Regions from separate parts of the Homo sapiens genome. Here region 1 is linked to region 2. A link means that fine-mapping ties the variant in region 2 to the expression of a gene that starts in the linked region. Tissue or cell type: whole blood. Region 2 holds a variant in brackets; the other region holds the start of a gene. All regions are shown on one strand. Distances are from middle to middle.

Region 1 (8,097 bases), 32 kb after region 2:
ACATACCTGTCTTCCCAGGTACTCAGGAGGCTGAAGCGGGAGGATTGATTGATCCCAGGATATTGAGGCTGCAGTGAGAAGTTATCACACCACTGCACTCCAGCCTGGATGACAGAGTGAGATCCTTTCCCAGAAAACAAAAATCATATCCTTTTTTTAAAAAAACCTTCTGAATCTCTCATTTTTATATCTTATACATTTGGAAGAGTTGGAATAATTTCTATATAATGCTACTGTCTTAGATAACAGACAGATTCTAAATTTTTCTGTAAGCTCAGTAGCCTTTAGCCTCTAGCTGATTATCAACTCCAAGAACAAATTCCAAAGTCAATGACCCTGAATTTCATTTGAGAAAAACACGAAGGCACTGCAAACTATGAACATTGTTATTATAATAGCAATTGTATAGTGCTTTCTAATTTTTAGACCACTTTCACATACTGTTTCATATTACCTCAGGTTTATAAATTAAACCTATTTTTGAAAATATGAGTATTATAGCCTAAAAAGCTGTTAAAAATGAAAAAGACTAGATTATCCAAGCAGAGATGCCTAAGTAGCATTAGGGGACATCCTCATCAGCGCAGTGATTTCAAAGTCCTGGTTTGTAACACCTGACTGATGTGTTCATTCAACAAATATTCATTAAGGACCTAATCCTAGTGTCAGGCTGCCTAGATTAGGAAACCTGTTAGGTCTTCAGTGAGAAAATTACATTCTGTATATGAAGAATGTGAGGACACTCAGGCTTAAAATAAAATTCAATCTGTAAATTATTGTTAAGTGAAAGGCCCTGTTAAAATGGGCAGGAACAGGATTCTGAGTAATTTTTTCCTTTCTTTTTGTGTGGATGGTTTTCTGGCTCCCCACTGAAGGAGTTGCAACAGTAGTAAACATACTATTGTTCAGGAAATAAAAATAAATGTGGTGTGTGTGTGTTTGATGTATTAATAGTTCTAGAGGACAGACTAAGAGCTAGTACTCCCTAAAGATCTTTTCTTTCTTTTTTTTTTTTTTTTTTTGTTTTTGGAGAGCGAGTCTTGCTCTGTCGCCCAGGCTGGAGTGCAATGTTGCAATCTTGGCTCACTGCAGCCTCTGCCTCCAGGTTCAAGCGATCCTCGCGCTTCAACCCCCCAGCAGCTGGGACTAGAGGTGTGCGCCACCACACTTGGCTTTTTTTTTTTTTTTTTTTTGTATTTTTAGTAGAGACAGGGGTCTCACCATGTTGTCCAGGCTGGTCTGGAACTCCTGAGCTCAGGCAATCCACCCACCTCCGCCTCCCAAAGTGCTGGGATTACAGGTGTGAGCCACCGCATCCGGCATTTGCTTTTACTCTGGAGGTTGTGTCCAAGAAGAGTACTGCTAATGGTGAAACTAAGCCAAAGCAACAAATTGACAACTGGATGACCTGAGGGAGAGGCCAGTGAAGGACCCTGGATCACACAGTATGGGTTCCCAAGGACTTCTTCCTTTAGGAGACCTGGAGGTGGCAGAAGGGGATCCAGTTGCTTTTCTTTTCCTCCTCTGGTTGTCTGGGGAAGGAAATGTGGAAAAGGAGGGGGCTTTAGTGGCACCCAAGTTTGGCTTTAAGCAAGTTGTGAGGCAGGCAGTTTCTCCTTGGATCTTCTACCCCTTTAGCAATGATTCCACTCCTTTTCTATCTCTTTTTACCCCCAAATCTGCCCTCCAACACACACCCATCTAAGAGGTGTTTCTCTTTTGGCATTCCTTCTGCTCCTTGTGGCATCTTTGTCCCTTTGAATTTCACCCTGAACTTGTAAACTGGCCAGCATCCTCTGTGACTTCTGGGCTGCTTACTGGGTAGTGCTGACAAATATCCTAAGAAGTTTACATGTCCTTTAAATCTCCCTAGAACCAGATTTCTGGGTTTCTGATAAATATCCACCAACATAAGAGTGAATTTTGATAGCAACCTTCATGGGGTCAACATCTCGACCTGGTGTAGTAAGAAGAAATTTACTTTGGACTTGCACAGAGCTGGACTCCAGCCTTAGCTCCTTTATGGGGAAGCTCTACGACCTTTCTATTAGTTTCCTCATCTGTACAATGGGGATGATAAAACCTATCTTGCATGATTGTCACTGAGATATTTGACAAAGTGCCACATACTACCTCCTAGCTCAATCTCTGTTAGTTTCCTTTTCTTTTGTAGGGTTATTATGAGCTTCATGTGAGAAAGTAAATGTGAAAGGGCTCTGTAACCTATAAAGCTCTTTCTACATGTTGGATTTTGCTAATGAAAAATAATACATTAATAATCTAATAATAAGGGTGGAAGGAGGGAGAGGATCAGGAAAAATAACTCATGGGTACTAGGCTTAATACCTGGGTAATGAAATAATCTATACAACACACCCCCATGACACAAGTTTACCTATGTAACAAATCTTTACATGTACCCCTGAACCTAAAAGTTAAAAATAATAATTTAATAATAAAAGCACAGATAGGTAAGAGGAACAGCTAGATATTTAAAAGGTAGATATTTTGGAGGAGATCTGTTTTCTTTGGGGAAGGGTCTTACTCTGTTGCCCAGGCTGGAGCAGTGGTGCCATGATCGCTCACTCCAGTCTTGAACTCCTGGCCTCAAGCAATCCTCCACCTCAGTCTCTTGAGTAGTCAGGACTACACGCTTGTGCCACCATGCTCGGCTAATTTTTAAAAATATTTTGTAGAGACAGAGTCTCACTATGTTGCCCAGGCTGGTCTTGAACTCCTGGCCTCAAGCGATCCTCCTGCCACGGTCTCCCAAAGTGTTGAGATTACAGGTGTGAGTCCTGTGCCTGGCCAGAGGTTTGTCAGTCTTATCATCTATGAATTAATTCAATAGACATCACGACCACATTTCCAAAACAAACATCAGGAATTATGATGTGACAAGTCAAAATGCATTGGTTGGGGACAGAATCTTTTAAATAGAAATTGTCCCATAAAATTTGAGACGTATAGTTTCTGTACCTAAATGACCATTCAGTGATCTTGGAAATCTATAGTGCTGCTCGTCACCAACTCCTGATATGTTTCAATTCTGTTTGCAATGGACAATAATAAAATAATATGTGAGTGTGGCCTCAGGTATTCTGAGTTTGGGCACTGCTGTTTCCATCTGAGGACCAAGACCTACACATCTCAGTAGCACTGAAAAAGTGAACAAACTGGTATAGAGTGCCAGAAAACTTGATCAGAATACATTATATATACTCTAAACCTGAAAACCACACTCCCTAATATTGCGCTGGTGAGCTGGCAGGTAAAGGAAAAAACATTGAGAAAGACAGCAGCCCCCAGAAGAGAAACAATCCTAAAAGAAATGTCCAAATTGCCAATTACTTTCTGTTTGTCAAAGTCTCTACTGGAGGTGCATGGAAGTTTGGTGAGAAGAATGAACCTTTGTGCAAGATCCCTCAGCTGACAGACCTGTGAGTGCCTCTGGGTGGCTGCTTTGTCTTACAGAAGGCATTTTGTTTCCTGACACTTTTTCCTGTGGCCTTTGCTCTTCGTATTCTGTATGTTAGGCTTCTGTTTCTATCAATATTTGTCATTAATAGCATTTACATTGCTCCTTCAGAATTTATTTATTTTGAGACAGGGTCTCGCTCTGTTGCCCAGGCCTGAGTGCAGTGGCACGATTATAGCTCACTGCAAGCTTGGACCCCCGGGGCTCAGGGGATCCTCCCACCTTAGCCGCCCAAGTACCTGGGGCCACAGGCGTGTGCCACCACACCTGGATAATTTTTTTTTTTTCTGAGTTTCACTCTTGTCACCCAGACTGGAGTGCAATGGCATAGTCTCGGCTCACTGCAACCCGTCTCCCGGGTTCAAGCGATTTTCCCACCTCAGCCTCCCAAGTAGCTGGGATTACAGGCGCCCGCCACCACACCCAGCTAATTTTTGTATTTTTAGTAGAGACGGGGTTTTACCATTTTGGTCAGGCTGGTCTCGAACTCCTGACCTCAGGTGATCTGCCCGCCTTGGCCTCCCAAAGTGCTAGGATTACAGGCGTGAGCCACCGCGCCCGGCCCAATTTTTATTATTTTTATTTTATTTTTTTATAGACACGGGATCTCTCTCTGTTGCCCGCAAACTCCTGGGCTCAAGCGATCCTCCAGCCTTGGTGAGAGCCACAGCGCCCAGTCTCTCTTTAAGAATTTAAAAAGCAGTTTCAGATCACAATATCATCTATCTCGTTCACAGTCCCCTTGCTTTTTACTGTCACCCTTTAAAAAGCATTATACAATTACAGAAACGGTGGTTTAGCAGTGAAGTAACCACCAAAGACTCTTGGCACTCCAATCCTCTGCCTTCTTCAGGCGATAGGATTAAGAATGGGATCCTAGGATGCTTACATGCAATGATGAACCCGAAAACACTTGCAAAGTGCTACGCAAATATTGATCACGAAGAAGGAAGTCCTCTTCCCGCCTGGAGACTGTGTGGGGTATGGCGGGGTGGTGGGGAGAATGTGGTGTCTTGCTCCACCCTCCTGGCGAGGGGAGGGCCTGGCCTGGACCGCAGAGGAATCGAGTGACTGCCCCTAAAATCTCCTAGAACCGATCCCGCGGCCCCGCCCCTCCCGCGGCCCCGCCCCTCCCGCGGCCCGTCAGCCTCTGCCGCGGAGCTGCGTCCGCCACTCATGTTTCTCCGAGCAGGCCTGGCCGCGCTCTCCCCGCTTCTTCGCAGTCTTCGGCCCTCTCCTGTCGCCGCCATGAGCACTGGCACCTTCGTCGTGTCGCAGCCGCTCAATTACCGCGGCGGGGCCCGCGTGGAGCCGGCGGACGCCTCCGGTACCGAGAAAGCTTTCGAGCCAGCAACCGGTAACTGCAACGAGCCGGGGAGGCTGGGGCGCCCTGGGGCCGGATGCGCGGATTTCCCGGCCAGCCCCCGTTTCCTGTGTTCTGCAGCGTTGACTTGAGCACAAGACAGTGACAGTGGAGAGTCTAAGGTTGTGTGTGTAGGCAACTAGCGATTCTGGGGCAACGCGAGTGCCTCCGGGCAGGGATGGGTAGGGAGGAAAAGCAAAGCTGATGAGTTGCGTGGTAGGATCGTGAGTTGTTTTACCCGGGCCAGAACAGAGTTCGCAAAGTACTGGTGGGGGAAGTCGTGCCTCTGTTAACTTCCTTTTTTGTTTGTTTTGTTTGTTTGTTTGTTTTTTGTTTGTTTTGAGACAGGGTCTCACTCTGTCGCCCAGGCTGGAGTGCAGGGGCACCATCTCAGAGCTCACTGCGCCCTCTACCTTACGGGCTCAAGTGCTTCTCCCGCCTCAGCCTCCCTGGTAGCTGGGATTACAGGCTCCCACCACCATGTCCGGCTAATTTTTGTATTTTTAGTAGAGACGGGTTTTCAGCATGTTACTCAGGCTGGTCTCGAACTCCTGAGCTTAGGTGATCCTCCCGCCTCAGCCTCCCAAAGTGCTGGGATTACAGCCGTGAGCCACCAAGCCCAGCCAACTGTTCCCCCTTTTAAAACCAGGACTGATGTATTATTGTCTTCAAATGTGTGCATAGGAGAGGAATTCTAAAAGAACGGGGCGGGGTTGTGGGGAAGATAATCATTTGTGCTGGGAATGAAGGAACGCTCACAGATAGTTTCTAATGACTACGAATGAGGACTTTGTCTCCACATTCTAATATTAAAATATTTCTGCACATTAATCAGAATTGGGAAAGGAAAAAACCCCACCTTTATTCAGTACTTTCTTCCCCAGCTTTATTGAAGTATAATTAACAAATAAAAATTGTATATACTTAAGGTGTAAAACGTGTTGTAATGTATGTATACCTTGCAAAATGGTTACCACGGTCAATCTAATTATCCATTGCTTCTGCATAGTTAATGGCTTTTTTTGGATAGTGAAATATTTAAGATCTATTCTTTTAGCAAATTTCAAGTATATGATGCAGTATTGGTAACCATAGTCACCATGGTCTACGTGAGCTCTCCACAATTTATTCATCTTGCTGAAATAAAACTTTTTAATCCAGTGCTTAATGTGTGCTAAGCACTGTGCTAGGCACTGGATTTACTCTGGGAACTCTGAAGGTCACAGAGATAAGGAAGAAGGGGCTTTTTGTTTTGGTTTTGTGTTGTGTTTATTTTGCTGGGTTTTATGGAATATATGTGGGGAGAAAAATGTAAATATTTTGTGTAAAATGTAGCCAGAGCAATAAAACTGATTTGCAGGGGACTGGAGAATTTAGTATTTGACCATCCACACTAAACCACAGAGCAGTGACTTGGCAGAGCCAGAAGGCATTATCACATCTCTTCTTTATATAGGAGGAAACAGCTTCTCTACCCCGACTTAATCCTGATACAAAAGAAAGAAAAATTGCTCTTTGCTTTAATTGCCTACAGTGTGTGTGATCCTCAGCCACCGCCTTTACCAGCTGGCTATTCAAGTTTGTAACAGAAATTGCAGATTTGTGAAATCTCCCTGGAAAGAGTCCCAGGAGTTCTTGTGAAGAGGATTTGCTGAGTTGGCAAACTTAAAGAATTCTTGTTGGTAGAGGCAGTACAGTCCTTGGGCTATGGGCCTAGAAAAACTGATTGTTTCATAATTTGCACCAGAATAGGGAGAGGGAATAAAGGTGGAATAAGAAAAGGAAATCTGGGAATTTTTGAGAAAAAAAAAATGTTCCTTTAGGGTTGCCTTATCCTGATATTACTGCTTATTAACTATATTTATCAAGTATCAAGTAGTATGATATAACCTACATAGAATATAGACAAGGGATTTACAGTCAGAGTTTATAACCCAATAGACTGATTACTTTTGACTTTCATTTTACAAGACCCCTGAGATTCTGAGATAATGTTTAGGAGTGTTGCAAAACTTAATCAGAAGTTAATGTTAGTAAACTCAACTGTAAAATAGTAGAGGGCAGGGGTTCTTAACTCTAAATCCTTGATGAGTTTAGGGCAGGGGACATGACATTCCTGTAATTCTGTTATATGTTTAAGTAGATTTTTCTGGAGAGAGGTCTGCAACTTTTATCAGACTCCTAATGTCAATGACCGCAAAATACAGTTAAGAACTGCTAGGCCGGGTGTGGTGGCTCATGGCTGTAATCCCAGCACTTGGGGAGGCAGAGGTGGGTGAATCACTTGAGGTCAGGAATGTAAGACCAGCCTGGCCAACATGATGAAATCCCGTCTCTACTAAAAATACAAAAATTAGCTGTGTGTGGTGGCAGGCGCCTGTAATCCCAGCTACTCGGGAGGCTGAGGCAGGAGAATTGCTGGAACCCAGGAGGCAAAAGTTGCAGTGAGTCAAGATCGTGCCATTGCACTCCAGCCTGGGTAACAAGAGCGAGACTCCGTCTTAAAAAACAAAAAAACAAAACAAAAAAACCTGCTAGTATAGAGATGGTCACTAAATCAAACCATACATAAAAACAAGAAGTTACGGTAGCCCACGCCTGTAATTCCGGCACTTCGGGAGGCTGAGGCGGGTGGGTCACAAGGTCAGGAGATCAAGACCATCCTGGTCAACATGGTGAAACCCGGTCTCTACTAAAAAATACAAAAAATTAGCTGGGCGTAGTGGCGTGCACTGGTAGTCCCAGCTACTCAGGAGGCTGAGGCAGGGGAATCGCTTGAACTCAGGAGGCAGAGGTTGCAGTGAGCCGAGATCGCGCCACTGCACTCCAGCCTGGGTGACAGAGCAAGACTCCATCTCAAGAAAAAAAAAAAAAAAAAAAAAAAGACTACTACTAAGAGAATATTGATAGATAATATTTTATTTAAATATGTGGCAACAATTTGAGTTAAAACTGATGTTTCCGCTCTTTATAGGCCGAGTGATAGCTACTTTCACATGTTCAGGAGAAAAGGAAGTAAATTTGGCTGTTCAAAATGCAAAGGCTGCTTTTAAAATATGGAGTCAAAAATCTGGCATGGAGCGTTGCCGAATCCTTTTGGAGGCTGCCAGGATAATAAGGGTATGTTCCAATTTATTTCCTTCCAGAACTCAGACATTGCTCTGAGGTTTCTTTGTGATGTTTGCAGTTCGACTTTGTTGCAACATTAGGCCGTAACGTTTTTATAAAATGGAAAAACATTTCCACATGCTCACCT
Region 2 (8,101 bases):
GCTTCCGTTTTCTACCCTATTTTATTTGTTTTCTGTATTGGGCTTTTATACATCACATTTTATTTTTCAAAAGGCTTCTGTTAATCTCTGTGAATTGTGTGCAAAAAAACAAAACAAAACAAAACAAAACAAAAAACGATGGGCCGAGCGCGGTGGCTCACACCTGTAATCCTAGCACTTTGGGAGGCCAAGGCAGGTGGATCACGAGGTCAGAAGTTCAAGACCAGCCTGGCCAAGATGGTGAAACCCTGTCTCTACTAAAAATACAAAATTAGCCGGGCATGGTGGCAGGCGCCTGTAATCCCAGCTACTTGGGAGGCTAAGGAAGAGAATTGCTTGAACTCAGGAGGTGGTGGAGGTTGCAGTGAGCTGAGATCACACCACTGCACTCCAGCCTGGACGACAGAGTAAGACTCCGTCTCAAAAAATAAAAATAAAAAAGAATAGAAATTTATTTTAAAAATTAAAAAATAAAAGAGTTATTAAAGGCTTTAAGGGTCTGAAAATGATTGATCTAGTCAACCCTCTTTTTTCTAACAGTAAGGACATTGAGATTTGGTAAAATGAAAAGATACTCCTATTGTTTTATTGTCTAGTTTGTCAGCACTGTAACCCAAGTTTTCTGATTGCTAACCCAATAATATTTCAGCGATATCAAGCTTGTACGATAAGGTTTTTTTAGTAAATATTTAATCTCTACATTATTTTTCCCAAATAGTCTAGTCAGATATAATGTGAGAGCCCTGGTAATATTGGAAAGGGTCGTTTTGAAGTGATTAGATTTTATATACAGCTTTGTTGATAGAGTAAAGATTACATTGTGGGAATTAATGAGATATTGCGATTAATTGGAAGTGAAGACTGGTTGCCAGATGTCAGAGAAACTAACAGAGTGAACTGAGGATTGCCATAGGTGTGTTATTTTAGCTAAATGACTAAGGAATAAAATTCAGCAGAATGTGTTTATTGCCATTGACCTGGGTCTTCCCAAAATATCCAGTTAGCAACCAACAACTTCCGTTTCTTGATCACTGGTTCTTAATCATGGTAAAGAGGAAAGAACACAAATCCTGTGTTTGTATTTTTCAGGTTTTCCTGCCAGTAGAAGACACAATTATGGGAAAATGTTTTTCCTTTGTTTTTCTCTTCTGGGTATACATTCTTCATTTGTTACCCTGTTATACAGGACTGGACAGGAATTCAAAATAATTGTTTTACATTTTTCCAAAACTTGATTGCATCTTACTATATTTTGCATTTCTATTTTCTTTCATAGCATCTTTATTATATATTAAAACTCCTATCTTTTAGCTAAATGCATATTTCTTTCTTTTTTTTTGTTTTTTTTGAGATGGAGTCTTGCTCTGTCACCCAGGTTGGAGTGCAGCTGCACGATCTCCTACAACCTCTGCCTCCCGGGTTTCAAATGATTCTCCTGCCTCAGCCTCCCAAGTAGCTAGGATTACAGGCGCATGTGGAGACGGGTTTCACCATGTTGGCCAGGCTGGTCTCAAACTCCTGATCTCAGATGATCCACCCACCTCGGCCTCCCAAGGTGCTGGGATTACAGGTGTGAGCCACCACTCCTGGCCTAAATGCATATTTCTAAACTAAATCTTGCTAATTAACAAGGCCTGAAAACTTGACCTCAAGAAGAAAGAAAAATTGAGAGATTATAGGAAAGCAGTCAGGTTAAGTTTAATGGATGAGATTGTTGAAAGATGTAATGAGATAATATATACAAAAGTGCCTGCTGTACAGTGTGGTATTCAGTGAGTATTTATTGAATTACAGCCTGACCATTGGTATCTTATTTTTCTTATCTACATGCAAGGATAATGATGTCCACCTCATTAAGTTGTGAGGATTTAAATGAGGACATACATATAAAGGTCTTAGAACAATGCCTTGCAGAGTGTAAGTACTCAGTAACTGTTAACCATTATTATTGTTGTTATTCTTTTTTTTAGCTTCATACTATGACCTTCACTTTAAAATAGCACCCACAGGAATATTTTTCTTTATTTTAAAAGTATTCCATTTAGCAGTATTTCAAAAAGTTGGGGAAGGCAAGATATGAGAAAAAGTATACAACTATTATTAATACAACTGTTATCTTACTATATATTCTTAAATACTTTATATTCCCTTTTATAGACCTTATTTTTTAGAACAGTTTTAGGTTCACAGCAAAATTGAGTGGAAGGTACAGAGATTTCATATATATGCCTTGCCCCCACATATGCATAGCACACCCCTCTATCAACTTTCTCCACCAGAGTGGTACATTTGTTACAATTGATTAATCTACACTGACATATAATTATTACCCCCAAATCCATAGTTTATGTTAGGGTCCATTCTTTGCATTGTACATTCTATGGGTTTTTTGCATAGCAACTATATTTTATATGTGTATGTTTATATATATATATATAGAGAGAGAGAGAGAGAGAGAGAGAGAGAAACCATTTGCTCATTTAACAGCATAATTGTGATTTTTTAAAAAAATAGGCCTGTTACACGATTTTTTATTCCTTTTTTTTTTTTTTTTTGCTTCTTTATGTGATTTTTTTATTCCTAAGATAACAGTCTGTTACAGAGAGGTGGCTTAATAAAGGAAAACTGCACTTTGAGTTATATCAGTTCACTTTCTGACTTGTAACCTCTCCCTACATCAACTTTCTCATCTCAACAGCAGGGATAACTAAGGACTACTATCTAGTCCTTAGAACTGTTTGCAAACTTTAAAGTGTGTAGAAATGTAGGATGTTACTACTGTAGAGATATTAGTGACGTCTGGTCCTTTTACCTGTGGCTCTTGCATCTTGAGACCATCACTTAGTTCCTACATGGGTTTTAGGGGAAAAGATTTCACTGATGGAAAAGCAGGGGAAATCTGTCTGAGAAAAATGGAAGACCTAGGTTTCACCTGTGAGACTATAGGAATTTAAACAGATTAGTTTAGAATTTCACGAAAGGATAAAATTGCATGCAGTAAATGCAGAATGTTTGTGTTAAAATACAAATACCTGTGTAATGTAACACCGATACATTTAATTTAGTGTTCCCAAAACGGGTCTGTGGCAAGAGCCACAAGGAAAGGAAAGTATAGAGTAAAGGAAAGTATAGAGTTGCCTGGATTTCCATGTACTTTGGCTGTGGCTACTGAAGTGTCTCATTTTTAACACTTTTTTGTTGCTGCTATTGCTATTTGAGATATTCCCGTCTAGAGCAGTGGCTTACCCTCAGTAGTCATTTAAATATTTTGAGTTAGTAAATGAAATTCAACAGACTACCAGTTCAGTTTCTTGTTTCTTCAAAATATTATTTTTTATTTTTTCAATCATCTTCTTTAAATCACGGTAAACCTATAAAGGGCATCCAACATTTTTACATTGGTTTTTAATCTCTAAAATGATAAGGACTCATCTATTTGACCCTTCAGAATAACTGAGCAAGAATCCCTTGTGTATTTTGTCTAGGCTATATTACTGTATTTGTTAACTAGACAAATATGTTTATCAGCAGCTAATTCTGTATGTCTTACTGTTTCAAATTTTATCTTTAAAGCAATTTCCCTTAATGCCTAGCTTAGTGCTAAATACATTGTAGGTGCTCAGGAAATATTAATTAAATAAAGAAATTGCAAACTAGTGACATCATTTGGTCTTTTTACTGCTTTGTGTAATGGGTTTTTTAGAGGTGAGCTTTAAGGAGCTATTTTTATTATAAAAGTAATGCAGGCCAGGTACGGTGGCTCATGCCTGTAATTCCAGCACTTTGGGAGGCTGAGACAGGCGGATCACGAAGTCAAGAGATCGAGACCATCCTGGCCAACATGGTGATACCCCGTCTCTACTAAAAATACAAAAAATTAGCTGGGCATGATGATGTGCCCCTGTATTCCCTGCTACTCGGGAGGTTGAGGCAGGAGGATCGCTTGAACCTGGGAGGCGGAGGTTGCAGTGAGCCAAGATCGCACCACTGCACTCCAGCCTGGCGACAGAGCGAGACTCTGTCTCAAAAAAAAAAAAAGTATTGCAAAGTAGGCCGGGCATAGTGGCTCACCCCTATAATGCCAGCACCTGGGAGGCTGAGGTGAGCAGATCACTGGAGCCCAAGAGTTTGAGACCAGCGTGGCCAACATGGCAAAACCCCAACTCTATTAAAAATGCAAAAATTAGCTGGGCATGGTGGCATGCCTGTTAGTCCCAGCTCCTCGGGAGGCTGAGGTGGGAAGAATGCTTGAGCCCGGGAAGTGGAGGTTGCAGTGAGCTGTGATCACACCACTGCACTCCAGCCTCAGTGACAGAGCAAGACCACGTCTCAGAAAAAGAAATACAAAGTCTGATCATTCTCCATCTTTACTAAGGAGAGGTATCCTAATGTACTAACGATTGATTTTTTTCTTCACTCATTTCAGATGTCTTCTTAAAGAATGAGCTATAGTATTGTTGAATGTATGTACTGAAATATTTTATGGTAAATATAATTTAGATGAGTCCTTAAAGTTATGTCCTCCATATTTAAACATTCTGTTGTATTCTAACAGTGTTACCTCAATACACATTCTTTTTTTTTTTTTGTTTTGTTTTGTTTTTGTTTTGAGACGGAGTCTCGCC[G/A]TCGCCCAGGCTGGAGTGCAGTGGCGCGATCTCGGCTCACTGCAGGCTCCGCCCCCTGGGGTTCGTGCCATTCTCCTGCCTCAGCCTCCTGAGTAGCTGGGACTACAGGCGCCCGCCACCTCTCCCGGCTAATTTTTTTTTTTTTGTGTGTGTGTATTTTTAGTACAGACGGGGTTTCACCGTGTTAGCCAGGATGATCTCGATCTCCTGACCTCGTGATCCGCCCGCCTCGGCCTCCCAAAGTGCTGGGATTACAGGCGTGAGCCACCGCGCCCGGCCGTCCTCAATACACATTCTTATCCATAGTAGTCATCATTCTTCATGATGAAGGATTGAGGGTGTGTATGCTTGTAGAGAAGCCTGGTTATGGATATTCTCACAGTATCTTATATCTAGTAGGTACTCAGTAACTACTGGATGAATAGTTTAATGCATGCAAACCTGCCTACCACAGAATGGAGTTTGTTCTGAAGAGCAGAACTTTAACACAGAAACTACTGTGTAAGAGAATCCATTAGATTAAGGGTCGAAACACAACAGGTTTAAATTCTAACTGTGCTCTTAATTTAGCTTTGTAATTCTGGATAAGCCATCCATCATACCTTTCTGAGTTTTAGTTTCTTCAAATATAAAATGAAGGAACTGGGCAAGAATAATCAGGATCTCTAAGGTTTTTTTCCTCTTATAAAATGCTACATTGGCTGGGCGCAGTGGCTCATGCCTGTAATCCCAGCACTTTGGGAGGCTGAGGCAGGCGGATCACCTGAGGTCAGGAGTTCAAGACCAGCCTGGCCAACATGGTGAAACCCCTTCTCTACTAAAAAAAATACAAAAATTAGCTGGGTGTGATAGCAGGCACCTGTAATCTCAGCTACTTAGGAGGCTGAGGCAGGCAGAATCGCTTGACCCAGGAGGCAGAGGTTACTGTGAGCCGACATCGTGCCACTGTACTCTAGCTTGGATGACAGAGTGAGACTCCATCTCAAAAAAAAAAAAAAAGAATTATGAGAACAAAGTATGTTTTTAAAAACTGAATAAAAGTATAAAAGTGAGTTTCTTAAAAAATTGCATTAGATGTAGGTGAAACAATGGAAAAAGATGACAGGGTCCTGAAAATTTAGGAGAATTCTGAACTCAGAGTGCTTTGCAGGTTTCTGAGTACTTTCAACACTGTAAAGAAATTGAAACTGGTTTTTTTTTTTTTTTTTTTTTTTTAGACAGAATCTCACTCTGTTGCCCAGGCTGGAATGCAGTGGTGCAGTCTTGGCTCACGCAGCCTCTGCCTCCTAGGTTCAAGGGACTCTCATGCCTCACCCTCCCGAGTAGCTAGGACTACAGGTGTATGCCACAATGCCCAGCTAATTTTTGTATTTTTCTACTAAAAAGTAGAGATGGGGTTTTACCATGTTGTCCAAGCTCGTCTTGAACTCCTAGCCTCAAGTGATCTACCCACCTCAGCCTCCCAAAGTGCTGGGATTACAGGCGTGAGCCACCACACCCGGCCGAAACTGAAAATTATAGACAGTGCAGTAATGACAAATCCAGCCAGCAGACCCGTACTCAAAGAAAATGCCCATAAGAAATAGCTAATGAATATTCTTCATATGCTTCTTGTTAAAAAAATTATCTCCTTTTATGATTCTCTACTCGAAAAAAATCAACCACTTTCATTAGTAGACCAAGGTCTCATCAGGTAAGGAAGGCTTTTACTGTTCTATGATTTTCATTACATTGTAGGCCTTTTTAAAAAATAACATAGTGATTGCCAGGTGCGGTGACTCCCTCCTGTAATCCCAGCACTTTGGGAGGCCGAGGTGGGCAGATCATGAGGTCAGGAGATCGAGACCATCCTGGCTAACATGATGAAACCCTGTCTCTACTAAATATACAGAAAATTAGCCGGGTGTGGTGGCGGGCACCTGTAGTCCCAGCTACTCGGGAGGCTGAGGCAGGAGAATGACGTGAACCTGGGAGGCAGAGCTTGCAGTGAGCCAAGATTGCTCCACTGCACTCCAGCCTGGGTGACAGAGCGAGACTCCATCTCAAAAAAAAAAAAAAGTGATAATCATCCTATTGCAGGTCATAATGGTTCCTTTAATCTATATGAGTATGAGTTCCCTTTGCCTGAGAGCTACATAAAACACATCTTCTGTATATTTGATATTAAAACCCAATCCTTACTGTGCTTTCTTCACAGAACATTCAGAAGATTCTCGGCCTTGCCCCTTCACGAGCCGCCACCAAGCAGGCAGGTGGATTTCTTGGCCCACCACCTCCTTCTGGGAAGTTCTCTTGAACTCAAGAACTCTTTATTTTCTATCATTCTTTCTAGACACACACACATCAGACTGGCAACTGTTTTGTAGCAAGAGCCATAGGTAGCCTTACTACTTGGGCCTCTTTCTAGTTTTGAATTATTTCTAAGCCTTTTGGGTATGATTAGAGTGAAAATGGCAGCCAGCAAACTTGATAGTGCTTTTGGTCCTAGATGATTTTTATCAAATAAGTGGATTGATTAGTTAAGTTCAGGTAATGTTTATGTAATGAAAAACAAATAGCATCCTTCTTGTTTCATTTACATAAGTATTTTCTGTGGGACCGACTCTCAAGGCACTGTGTATGCCCTGCAAGTTGGCTGTCTATGAGCATTTAGAGATTTAGAAGAAAAATTTAGTTTGTTTAACCCTTGTAACTGTTTGTTTTGTTGTTGTTTTTTTTTCAAGCCAAATACATGACATAAGATCAATAAAGAGGCCAAATTTTTAGCTGTTTTATGTACAAGGAGAGATCTGTTTCATTTTGTTTTGCCGTATTTCTAGATATAAGTTTTAGCATGGGCCAGGAAGGACTAAAATAAAAGTTTTTAAGGTACTGTACTTTTTGCCATACTTGACTCATATACTCAAAATACAGAGTTGTCTTGGTGTAGGAATTGGAAAGCAAGAGTGGAAAGGAACGTAATAACTCGTTGGAGTTTAAAAATGAGGGTCTTGGCAAGTAACACTGATGTCTGAAAAAAAATTAAATATAAATAAATAAATAAAAATGAGGGTCCTCAGCTGTTCTCTTCATATCCTATTACAGTCTCTCAGATTCTTGTGGGGGCACTCTTAGATCTCCCTTGGAGACAAGGTTATAGTTATATGTTGTTAATCTCGCAGAGCTTCCTTTTAGTCACAATAGCCTTCATTTTCTGCCATGCCCCTTCATAAGGGAGAAGGATGTTTGTACCATGATCCTCCCCGCATAATCTATGGAATTAGGAGTCCTGTGTGGAGTCTTATCAATAAATATGCACATTCATCAAATGTCTACTTAAATGTGAGTATTCTACCAGTGAGAAAAAACACATAATTTTCAAGGTAATCATTGTTAAACCAACAGCAAACTTCTTTCTTATCAGCACCATAAAGTCCAGAAGACAGTAGAAAAGTATCTTCAAAGTGCTGAGGAAAATAAGTATCAACTTAGAATTT

The links. PIP is the estimated chance that this variant, and not a neighbour inherited with it, causes the effect.
Region 1: it holds the start of ALDH9A1, and the variant in region 2 is fine-mapped to the expression of ALDH9A1 in whole blood (TOPMed, PIP above 0.99).

The regions. Positions count from the first base shown.
Region 1 is chr1:165,695,116-165,703,212 of GRCh38, reverse strand. It overlaps ALDH9A1 (aldehyde dehydrogenase 9 family member A1), which reads left to right and starts at 4,651. Exons shown (of 11, transcript NM_000696.4): 1 at 4,651-4,835; 2 at 7,816-7,961. The coding sequence starts at 4,655. It also overlaps the pseudogene CA14P1. RefSeq lists enhancers at 4,216-4,395, 4,260-4,842, 4,686-4,915 and a silencer at 4,466-4,655.
Region 2 is chr1:165,726,843-165,734,943 of GRCh38, reverse strand. TMCO1 (transmembrane and coiled-coil domains 1) reads left to right here. Exons shown (of 7, transcript NM_019026.6): 7 at 6,823-8,101. The coding sequence ends at 6,921. Among named protein-coding and RNA genes, the nearest start is that of ALDH9A1, 32 kb to the right of the region's middle. The variant G/A (reference allele first, on the strand shown) is at 4,626.